Homo sapiens: one gene and its partners. The protein of the gene in region 3 interacts with the protein of the main gene of each other region in a pairwise test. Each region holds a gene or a part of one and is shown on either strand. Other genes may lie near its edges. The genes, in order: MYOC, AP2B1 and COL3A1.

Region 1 (3,734 bases), on a different chromosome or scaffold from region 3:
CAGCTTCTTGGGAGACTGAGGCAGGAGAATTGCTTGAACCAAGGAGGGGGAGATTGCTGTGAGCCGAGACTACACTATTGTACTCCAGCTTGGGCAACAAGAAAGAAACTCTGTCTGAAAACTAACTAACTAAATAAATAGGCTCCCAAAGATATGGTGTTTGAGATTTGATTTTAGATAAGGACTGGGGATGGGTTGGGGGTCAGAGAAGGGAAGATAAAACATGATTGGACTGTGCTGATAACAGTTGGGCCTGAGTGATGGCTACATTGGAGTTCATTGTAGTCTCTCTACTTTTGTGAATATTTGAACAATTCCATAATTAAAAACCTCATAAATAATAAATTGCAGGGCAATGTGCCTACCTTAGAGTAGGGTATTCAAAATCAAATAATATTTTAATTCCACTAGAAGGGCTGGTTTGTGAATAGGTGAGTCGTAATTTCAGGAATATGGAGACAGTCCTCAGCATCTTCTTAGATGTCTGAATTTCAATAATTAAAAATTCATGAAAAATTAGCTGGGCATGGTGGTAAGCATCTGCAGTCCTAGGTACTTGGGAGGCTGATGTGGGAGGATTGCTTGAGCCCAGAAGTTCAAGGCTGCAGTGAGCTATGATCCTGCCACTGCACTCCAGCTTGGGTAACAGAGCAAGGCCCGGTCTCAAGGTCTCAAAAAAAAAAAAAAAGAGACCGGGCACAGTGGCTCACACTGAAATCCCAGCACTTTGGGAGGCCGAGGCAGGCGGATCACTTAAGGCCAGGAGTTCAAGACTAGCCTGGCCAGCGTGGTGAAATTCCATCTTTACTAGAAATACAAGAATTAGCAGGGTGTGGTGGCACATGCCTGTAGTTCCAGATACTCAGGAGGTTGAGGATCACTTGAACCCAGGAGGCAAAGGTTGCAGGGAGCCGGGATTGTGCAACTGTACTCCAGTCTGGGCAACAGAGCAAGACTCTGTCTCAAGAAAAAAAAAAAAAAAAAAAAAAAAAAAGAAGTGTGGCTCATGTCTGTAATCCCAGCACTTTGGGAGGCCAAGACAGGAGGAGTACTTGAGCCCAGGTGTTCAAGACCAGCTTGGGCAACATAGGGAGACTCCTGTTAAAAAAAAAAAAAAGATAAAAGTTTACTGCATGACTTAAGGTTTTTTCCCTTGTTATATGCAAATATTCTTGTAAGAAGTAACATATTAAGCTTTATACTTTCAGTAGAAATATTCTGTCTGATTCCTTTCTGAGACCAGTTTTGCATAATGGAGAGGGAGTGTGTGCAGAGTTCCTATAGGAGTTTGGGGTGGGGGTGGTGAGCCATACAGAAGGGAAGCGGGTGGGCAGCATTGGTTAGACAGTAAGTGATCATGGTGTGCTACATGTCTCTACTCTTGCTTAGGATTATGATCTTACAGCAGTCTTGAATACAAGGATGAGGCAATAGTCACAAGGAACAGGCTTGGCTATTTTAAAATGCAGTTTGGCCAGGCCCAGTGGCTCATACCTGTAATCCCAGCACTTTGGGAAGCCAAGGTAGACAGATCACTGGAGCCCAGGAGTTCAAGACAAACCTGGGCAACATGGTGAAATCCCATCTCTACAAAAACTACAAAAAGTTAGCCTGGGTGGTGATGTGTACCTGCAGTCCCAGCTACTTGGGAGGCTGAGGTGGGAGGATCACTTGAGACCGGGAGGTCAAGGCTGTGGTGAGCAGTGATCGTACCTCTGCACTCCAGCCCTGGCGTAGAGTGAGACCCTGTCCTCCCCTCCAACCTCCCAAAAAACCCATCACATACACATAAAAACAAATAAAATGCAGGTTTGATGATTATTCAGGTGTGGCAAGGCCAACATCCCAGGAGGCAATTGTCACTGAAAAGCAAGTTAAAGCAAAATTATGGAGACAGTAAAAAGATCAGCAGTTGTTGGGTGAGGAAGGGATGACTAGGTGAGGCACAGACGATTTTTAGGGCAATGAATACTGTGTATGATACTATAATGGTGGACACATGTCACTATGCATTTGTCTAAACCCATAGAAGGCGCAACACCAAAAATGAACCCTAATTTAAACCGTGGACCTTGGGTGTTGTGCGTGCTGATGCAGGTTCATCAGTTGTAACAACTGCTGTGGCGGGAGATGATGATAATCGGGGAGGCTGTGCATGTGTGGGGGCCAGTAGTATCTGGGAACTGTTTGTACTTTTCTCTCAATTTGGCTGTGAACATAAAACTGCTCTAAAAAAAAATTATCTTTACAAGTTGTTGTACTCACAGAGCCCAAGAGGAAGGGGGCACACTAAGCCCAGGAGGCCACCTGGGGAAGCACCAGGGTTGCTCCAGAAGAGGGCACCAGGGGAAAATGTGGGAAAGCGCCTTTATTCTTTCCATGGGAAGGAAAGAAAGGGGAGGCAGGGTAAGCAGGTTTAGGATTGGGGAGTTTGAATAATTTCAGCAGGATCTGGGGTCACAGGAGTTATCTCTAATTGTCTGGTACCAGGCCCTGGGTGATTAGGTCAGGGGGACAGTGGCCTTGAGTTTGAGCCAGATGGAGGTGGTCACAGGGTGTGGGCTCTGGATTGGTTGGTTTGCATATGAAAGCTGTCCTCCCAGGTGAGTCCTTTGCTAACCGTAGGAACTGGCTACCCCTGGGAGGGGCAGTCCCTCTCACGTTTGCAAGGCCCAGACAGCAAAGCATCAGAATAAAAAGACATGCTTAATACACTGGGCTTTTCTCTTGCTGAACCTCTGAGTCACTTCTCTGCCCTTTGAGCAACTTGTTCCCCGCTCAGGATTCTCAGGTGTTCAGGACAGTGGGAGGAAAGTCAGTGCATCCCCTGAGGCCGGAGCGCCTACACAGCCGAGAGGGTCGGGAAGACATGTTCTGCCTTTGATCATTTGTTTGCTCAGCTCTCCTAAATTTAGATTTCAGGCAGAGAGGATCACCACAGAAGTCTTAATCCTCTGGTTCTACCACATTTCATCAAAGCCACACATTATTTTACATTTTCACATCTCCAGAGTCAGGGTACCTTGTTTGAGTTGCTGGGGTTCAGCTTCAACAAATTATAGTACTGGAAAAAATTTCTCCCTGGAAGGAGGTGAAGAAAACATTCAGCTAGCTCTCAGGTGCAGGCTGGGCCAGACAGCCATGCTGCCCACAGTGAGCCAGCTCAGTAGCTGCTGCAGCTGCCTGCCCCTGATCCCAGCTACCCTTCTCTCCTCTCCACCCCTGCCTCTGTGTGGCTGCAGTTGTTAGCCTCCCTAAAAGTGTTAATGCCCTGGAGGTGGGTGGGTCCTCCATCCCTGGGATATCCCTCAGTCTAGAGTGCACCATGTAAGTAGTTAAAACCCATAAGCTGGCCAGGCGCAGTGGCTCATGCCTGTAAACCCAGCACTTTGGGAGGCCGAGGTGGCAGGATTGCATGAGGCCAAGAGTTTGGGACCAGGCTGGGCAACATAGCGAGACCCCATCTTTACAAAAAATTAAAGAGTTAGCTGGGTGTGGTGGTGCAGTCTGTGGTCTCAGCTACTCGGGAGGCTGAGGCAGGAAGATGACTCTTGAGTCCAAGAGGGCAAGGCTGCAGTGAGCCATGATCATGCCACTGCACTCCAGTCTGGGTGACAGAGTGAGACCCTGTCTTAAAAAAAAAAAAAATTAAAAAAAGAAAGACTCATAAGCCAAAATGTATATGTAACTGAGGACATCCTCAATGTGCATTCCAAACTCCAGGGGCAATTGGG
Region 2 (3,734 bases), on a different chromosome or scaffold from region 3:
ACTGTATAGGTTCTGCATTAAAGAATTTACATTAGCATAGAGATGCTGCCTCAAACTGGAGTCGCCTGTAAGTTAGAACTCATTTTCCCTTTGAGCCATTCCATATTCTTAGCACCACTGAATATTTAATAAGTTTCCACGGGGTACATGATATTCTGCCCACCTGGTTGACGGTTGCAGCACAAACACTTTTCATCTCATCTGTCCTCAGGTAGAGAATTATAGATAGTTGCTCAGAATAACAGTGAATCAAAAGCAATGCCAAAAACACAAGTTGGTGCCAGCTAAACATTCTGTAAAGTAGATACTACTAACTTTAGACAATATTTATTTTTCTATATTTTTGAGGAAGGGTCTGTCTTTGTCACTCAGGCTATAATGCAGTGGTGCAATCATAGCTCACTACAGCCTTAAACTCCTGGGCTCAAGGGATTCTCCCACCTCGGCCTCCCAAGTACCTGGAATTACAGGCATGCACCACCACGTCCAACAAAATTTTTTTTTTTTTTTTTGAGACAAGAGTCTCGCTCCGTCACCCAGGCTGGAATGCAGTGGCACGACCTCGGCTCACTGCAAGCTCCGCCTCCTGGGTTCACACCATTCTCCTGCCTCGGCCTCCTGAGTAGCTGGGACGATAGGCGCCTGCCACCACGCCCGGCTAATTTTTTGTATTTTTAGTAGAGACGGGGATTCACCGCGTTAGCCAGGATGGTCCTGATTTCCTGACTTCGTGATCCACCCACCTCGGCCTCCCAAAGTGCTGGGATTACAGGCATGAGCCACTGCACCCGGCCCCACCGAATTTTTTAAAAAAATTTTTGTAGAGACAGGGTCTCAGTTTGTTGCCCAGGCTGGTCTCAAACTCTTGGCTTCAAGTGATCCTTCTGCCTCAGCCTCCCAAAGTGCTAGGATTATAGGCATATGAGCCAACATGCCTAGCCAACTAATTTCTTTATGTAATTTTTAAAAAGGGGGCTGGGTGTGATGGCTCATGCCTGTAATCCCAGCACTTTGGGAGGTCAAGGCAGGTGCATCACCTGAGTCAAGAGTTTGAGACCAGCCTGGCCAACATGGTGCAACGTCGTCTCTACTAAAAATACAAAAATTAGCCGGGCATGGTAGTGGGCACCTGTAATCCCAGTTACTAAGGAGGCTGAGGCAGGAGGAGAATCGCTTGAACCCAGAAGGTAGAGGTTCCAGTGAGCCGAGATCATGCCACTGCACTCCAGACTGGGCGACAGAGTGACACTCCATCTCAAAAAAAAATAAAAAATAAATAAAAGGTACCATATGGTGTTACTTAGGGGAAATAAAAGGCAGGGTTGAATCTTCTAGTACTGGTGGTGATGCTCTGTCAGAAGTCATGGTTAAAGCATCTGCACTTCCACACCCACACCGACGCCCACCCTTATGCCTAGGTTGAAAGATTTCTAATGGTAGTTACTACCATAAAAACCTTAAAAAATTATGACTTGCTTCATCCTGTGGATTTAATACTAATCTTGAAGGATAATAAACAGAAGCCAAGGCTACCTGTAAAATAAAATGAACCAAACAAAATGTCAAAGCAGAGAAGTGAACAGGTAATTTACAAATGAGAGACAGCATCTATGTCCAGCCAAATTCTAATTCTCCATTTAAAGTTCACTAAGAAAATATTCAGGCCAAGCACAGTAATTCACTGAGGAAGGCCAAGGTGGGAGGATTGCTTGAGGCCAGGAATTCATGACCAACCTGGGCAACATAGCAAGACCCCATCTCCATAAAAAATAAGGCTGGGTGCGGTGGCTCACACATGTAATCCCAACACTTTGGGAGGCCATGTCAGGTGGATCACGAGGTCAGGAGATCAAGACCATCCTGGCTAACACGGTGAAGCCCCGTCTCTACTAAAAAATACAAAAAATTAGCCAGGCGTGGTGGCAGGCGCCTGTAGTCCCAGCTACTCAAAAGGCTGAGGCAGGACAATGGCATGAACCTGGAAGGCGGAGCTTGCAGTGAGCTGAGATCACGCCACTGCACTCCAGCCTGGGCGACAAGGCAAGACTCTGTCTCAAAAAAAAAAAAAAAATTAGCGGGATGTGGTGGCATGTGCCTGCAGTCCTAGATGCTCAGGAGGCTGAGGTAGGAGTGCTTGAACCCAGGAGTTCAAAGTTACAGTGAGCTATGACTGCACCACTGCACTCCAGCTTGGCCACAGAGCAAGATCCTATCTGTAAAAAATAAATAAATAGATAGATAAATAATTTTTAAAAGGGAATATTCAAAGGTTATCCACTGATTAACTCTTAGTGTTATGCACCTTTCAGTAAACATTGCATTAGACCAAAAAGGTAGCACTTTAAAGAAAGTGGCTATTTTCCTCCATCTTCCTGGCAACAATATTTAATGACCCATCCAATATATTCAATTAGTACCCAATTCAAATGAGCTTTAGTTATTACTGGAGTCAAACATATCACTTGGGACTTGACCTTCTTCATTATATAAGCAAAGTTTAAAATGTCAATAAGGAAAAGGTCCCAAAACTTTAAGGTGTTAAGCTATGTTCTGGCTGCTAAACATTTACAACATAACCAAGTTGGCTAAAAATAATCTTGCCCTAGAAATTCCCCTATAGAGAAATGCATGATAATAATTAGGTAATAAAGATCATTTTCATTCAGTTTCTAGTCCCACACCACCAGAAAATACCACAAATATTGATCTGAAGAAAATAATCTTAAATATATATAAATTTACGGCCAAACCTCCTGAAGAAAATGATGAAAGTTTTCATCATGGGCAATATGGGCAAATATGAGCATAAGTACAATACAAAGATTTGCTTTAAGATCCCTGCATTTTAGTACTTGGTTCTCACCTCAAAAACACCTAGGATATGAAATATACAATCTGTGAGACACACAAAGTCATGTTTCCCATAGCTACCCCATAACCCAGTATTCCAAAGACAAGGTTCATATTAAACACGCTTTAACAAGGGACTCATTTTAAATACTGCTCTCTTTGTAAAAGCAGAAGCTTATTACCATTGGATTTGAATCTGCTATGAGATCCCGTAGAGAATCCAGAAATCCCTGATCTTCCACCATTTGGGCATTGATATCATGGAGTTTTGCCACGCAGACTGCTGCTGTTTTCCGAACATAGGGATCCTCATCCTTCAAGCACTTGCGGAGCGGCTCACAGAGATATTCTGTAATTTTGTCTACCCGGATGCACCCCATGGTTCTGACTGCCAAGGCTCGAATCAAAGGATTAGGATCTTCACAGTCCTGCAGAAAACAATCACCAACAACTGTAGGTATACATGGTGGCTAAAAGTAAACAGTCCAGTTTATGTAAGCTGCAAAAGAATTACCTCATTAATTTAAGCTTCCAGATACATTCTACATGAGCTCCAATCTTCCATGCTATTCCTTTCCTAAGTACAAATCTTAGCTGCCCTATTTAAGAGTTTAGGTGAAGAAGTCATTTAACTGTTTTAAATACAAAATGAGAAACAGCTCAGCAGGATTCACTCTAGTGCCAGGCAGAGGTTTAGGGAGTTCGTACCATCCCACAGCCATTAGGATCTACCCTAAAAACAGGAAAAGCTTTTGGGCTTGTATTCCGGCACAGGAAAAAAAAAAAAAAAAAAAAGAGGAGCTGTAAAGACCGTGCCCTACTCCACAGTGAGTTCCTAAACATCAAATAGAAAAGAGAGCTAGATTTCTGTGGCCTGCAGCCAA
Region 3 (3,500 bases):
CTAAGAATACATTGCTAGTCCAAGAAAATGCCTTAAAAATAATTCATTCATTGTGTCATCAGAATTATTTTACTAAAGATTTATTTGGGTGCCTTTAGGGTCACGTGATCACCGATTTATAATAACTACAATTCATTATCAAGAAAGATATTGTTCCACTATGTAAGAATCAGTAGTGTCAGAGCACAAGTTTTCTCTATCATTCTTCCTTCTGGATGACTGATGTAAGCAAACACCTGTGAGCTACAATTCCAATATTGACATGACAGAGGGGAGTGTAATTTGTTGGGATAATTGTTTTTATTTCATTTACCCAAAGGCATGGAATAGAAAGTATTAGGAATGATAGTATCATTAACAAAATAGTAACCATGGAAGCTGTTTGAGAAGTAAAATGCACTACATAAACGCAGATAATTATGAATGTTGTAATTCTGAGATCTCTAGTGGGATAGCAATGTGGACAGGGTTTATTTGGTTAATTGGGCAGATGTCATTATTCTGATACGATGGATACCTGATCAAATTTTTAAAAAGGTATTTTTCTCCTGTTATAGTGTGGTAGAAACATTTTTAATGTGATGGAGAATGTCTTAAAGTCATTGTTCAGTTTCTAAATTGAGTGGATGCATTGCGTCTCTCTATTTCAATTTAAACATAATGCGCTGTGTTTCTGAAAATTGGAAGATTGTAGCAAATTAAATACACATACGTATAAGTGATGTCTTACCTCAGATCCTCTTTCACCTCTGTTACCTCGAGGCCCTGGTGGTCCAATGGGACCTGGATGTCCACTGGTTCCATCTTTGCCAGGAGGTCCACTGGGTCCAACAGGTCCCTAAGAAAGTATCATGACATCACAATGCCAGAATATCTTTCTGAAATGCAGACATCTGAAACATGTGGACCTGTAATATCTTTCTGTGCTACTTACTCTGGGGCCTGCAGGTCCTGGACTGCCGATTGCACCCTGCTGACCAGCAGGGCCCTGGAAAGAAAGGAAGTGTACATAGGAGTGAAGGCCTTAAAAAGCACTGGGAAACTGTACATTCAAGATCAGATCAAGAAACATGGGGATCATGATGAAATTTTTTTTCTTTCTTTAATCTTCCCATTGTGTCATGCTGATTGTTGTTTCAAATTAGCCTTCAAATCCATTTCTCATCTCTTCTAGTACATATTTTTAGAGATGGAAAGCTTTCTTCTCTTAATCTCTAAAATTTGTATACATTGAAGGGATTTTCCAACAAAATGAATGCACTTACTGGAGAACCTGGGGCACCTGGATTACCAGGGAATCCTCGATGTCCTTTGATGCCAGCAGCTCCACGTTCACCTGTTTCACCTTTGTCACCACGTGGGCCTTGAGGACCCTTTAGAAACATATTTTGAATTGAAGTCATATACACACATACATATTGGAAAAATAAAATAGAATTTATAATAATTAAATCTATTTTATGGCTTTCTATCAGCTAAAAAATCCCCCATCAACAGACACTTCAGATAGGAAATGAGATTTGTTTCTGTGGTTGTTTTCATTTTGGACTGATCATTGCATGGATCCCTAACAACTGATGTTTCTATCCTTGGCTCCAAAGAACTTTTAGATCCTGAACTGCTTTCCATATCATTGTCATTAAAGGAAAGTTTATATTTGTTCTATCTATCTATCTATCTATCTATCTATCTATCTATCTATCTATCTATCATCTATCTATAGATAGAACAAATATATATATATATATATATATATATATATATATATATATATATTCATTCTTTTTTCCTGAACACGCTGGAAAATAAAATATTTCCTACACTGTAGAATGAGTTAAAAAAAGAACAAAACAAAATAAAACCAAAAAATGACAAAACTTACAGGAGCACCTCGGGAACCAGCAGGACCGGGAGCACCAGCAGGGCCAGCAGGGCCCTAAGATGAAAACATTCAATTGAGAAGACATACACGGAACTAGTTTTATGTGTTGACACAATTTCGTTTTCAAAAGTAAATAATTTCATTATAATAGAATTATAGTATGCATGCAATTATTGGAAGTTAATATTGTTTTTGCCTTCAAAGTGCTAAAGCCCTGTTTATAGCTTTCTCAGGGGATCTAGACAGAAAAGTTGGGCAAGAGCCCTGTTAACTTGGCCTTGCATTTACCCAGCATATAGATAGTTGGTCTGATTAATATGATTTCGGGTTTCAGTAATGAATTCTTTATTGACTACTGCCAAGTACTTCTGGTATTGACTTATTCACACATTTGTCTAAGGAACAACTAGCATTAAAACTGTAAAACAAATGACAGTGGATATTTTGGTTGGCAGATCTGACATTCTACCTTCTACCTACAAATGTCTTTATTGAAGGAAATAGACAAACAAGACAGATGCTGCTTTTGGGAACTCACACTTTCTCCTCTGTCACCACTCTTTCCAGCTGGACCGACAGGACCAGGTGGGCCTGGATGACCAGGAGCGCCAGGGGCACCAGGAGAGCCATTTTCACCACGATCACCCTGTGAACAAATTCATAGGTACAAAATAAACATGATGATCACTTATTTTGATAACACAAATCAATTGCACATGTGTTTATTATACCTTGCCACCAGGAGATCCATCTCGGCCTGGAAGACCATCTGATCCAGGGTTTCCCTGATTAAAAAATGAGAAAGGAAATAAAATTTCTTGAAACCTTCCAAATGCCATTTCATCCATGCATTCTCAGCAGGGCAATATAATTCTCAAGGGGGTTAAAATTGGTTCTTGGGGGTAAGAAATCTTAGATATTACAAAGCAGTGTGGCCCTTCAAAGGGTCACAATGTCCAGACAGATAGTTAGTGTATTCATGGAGGAGAGGTGATTAGAAAAATGATATCCAAAAAGAGTCTTTACAGACCTCTAATAAATAAAAGTTTAAGAAATAGTGATCTAAACTGTTAGTGGAAATCTACAGTTTAATTAGTTTGCTTTAATCATTCCACATTGTATACATATATTAAAACATCACATTGTACCTTATAAATGTATACAATTATGATTTGTTAATTATAAATAATATTAATTTTAAATTCTTTAAAAATAATAAAAGACTAACCATAGATAACCGTAGAATATTTTCACTCAGAAAACATGTCAATTGTGGTTCTCCCCACTAACTTTTTTCCTAATTTAGTTAGAGATAATATTTTCTCCACAAATGATTATTCATTGGGTAAATACTAATGAACAAGAGCTTTTAAGTCTATCCTAAATTGTAATGAAAGAATTTCTGTTATTAGAGATAGAAGAACTTTGCTATGTGGCCATATTTACACTCTTAGACATTAAAGCTCAATTTCACCTTTGCTGAAATAAATTATCAAATTCTACCTGGCTGGTTGAATAAAAACTGCTACTCACATCTCTTCCAGGTTCACCAGCTGTACCAGCCAGACCAGGAAGACCCTGGGGTCCAGGGGGACCACGTTCTCCACTGAGACCGTTA

Evidence for each region.
Region 1: the proteins of COL3A1 (region 3) and MYOC interact in a two-hybrid assay, tested with the Homo sapiens proteins (one study listed by BioGRID).
Region 2: the proteins of COL3A1 (region 3) and AP2B1 interact in binary tests that used the Homo sapiens proteins (3 or more experiments, as listed by UniProt).

What each region holds. Positions count from the first base shown.
Region 1 is NC_000001.11:171,638,980-171,642,713, forward strand, and holds part of MYOC (myocilin precursor), read right to left. Parts: intron 1-3,734. UniProt on the Homo sapiens protein: Secreted glycoprotein regulating the activation of different signaling pathways in adjacent cells to control different processes including cell adhesion, cell-matrix adhesion, cytoskeleton organization and cell migration.
Region 2 is NC_000017.11:35,607,686-35,611,419, reverse strand, and holds part of AP2B1 (AP-2 complex subunit beta), read right to left. Parts: intron 3,279-3,734; coding exon 3,033-3,278; intron 1-3,032. UniProt on the Homo sapiens protein: Component of the adaptor protein complex 2 (AP-2). Adaptor protein complexes function in protein transport via transport vesicles in different membrane traffic pathways.
Region 3 is NC_000002.12:189,005,373-189,008,872, reverse strand, and holds part of COL3A1 (collagen alpha-1(III) chain preproprotein), read right to left. Parts: coding exon 3,416-3,500; intron 2,668-3,415; coding exon 2,614-2,667; intron 2,529-2,613; coding exon 2,421-2,528; intron 1,937-2,420; coding exon 1,883-1,936; intron 1,374-1,882; coding exon 1,266-1,373; intron 989-1,265; coding exon 935-988; intron 839-934; coding exon 731-838; intron 1-730. UniProt on the Homo sapiens protein: Collagen type III occurs in most soft connective tissues along with type I collagen. Involved in regulation of cortical development.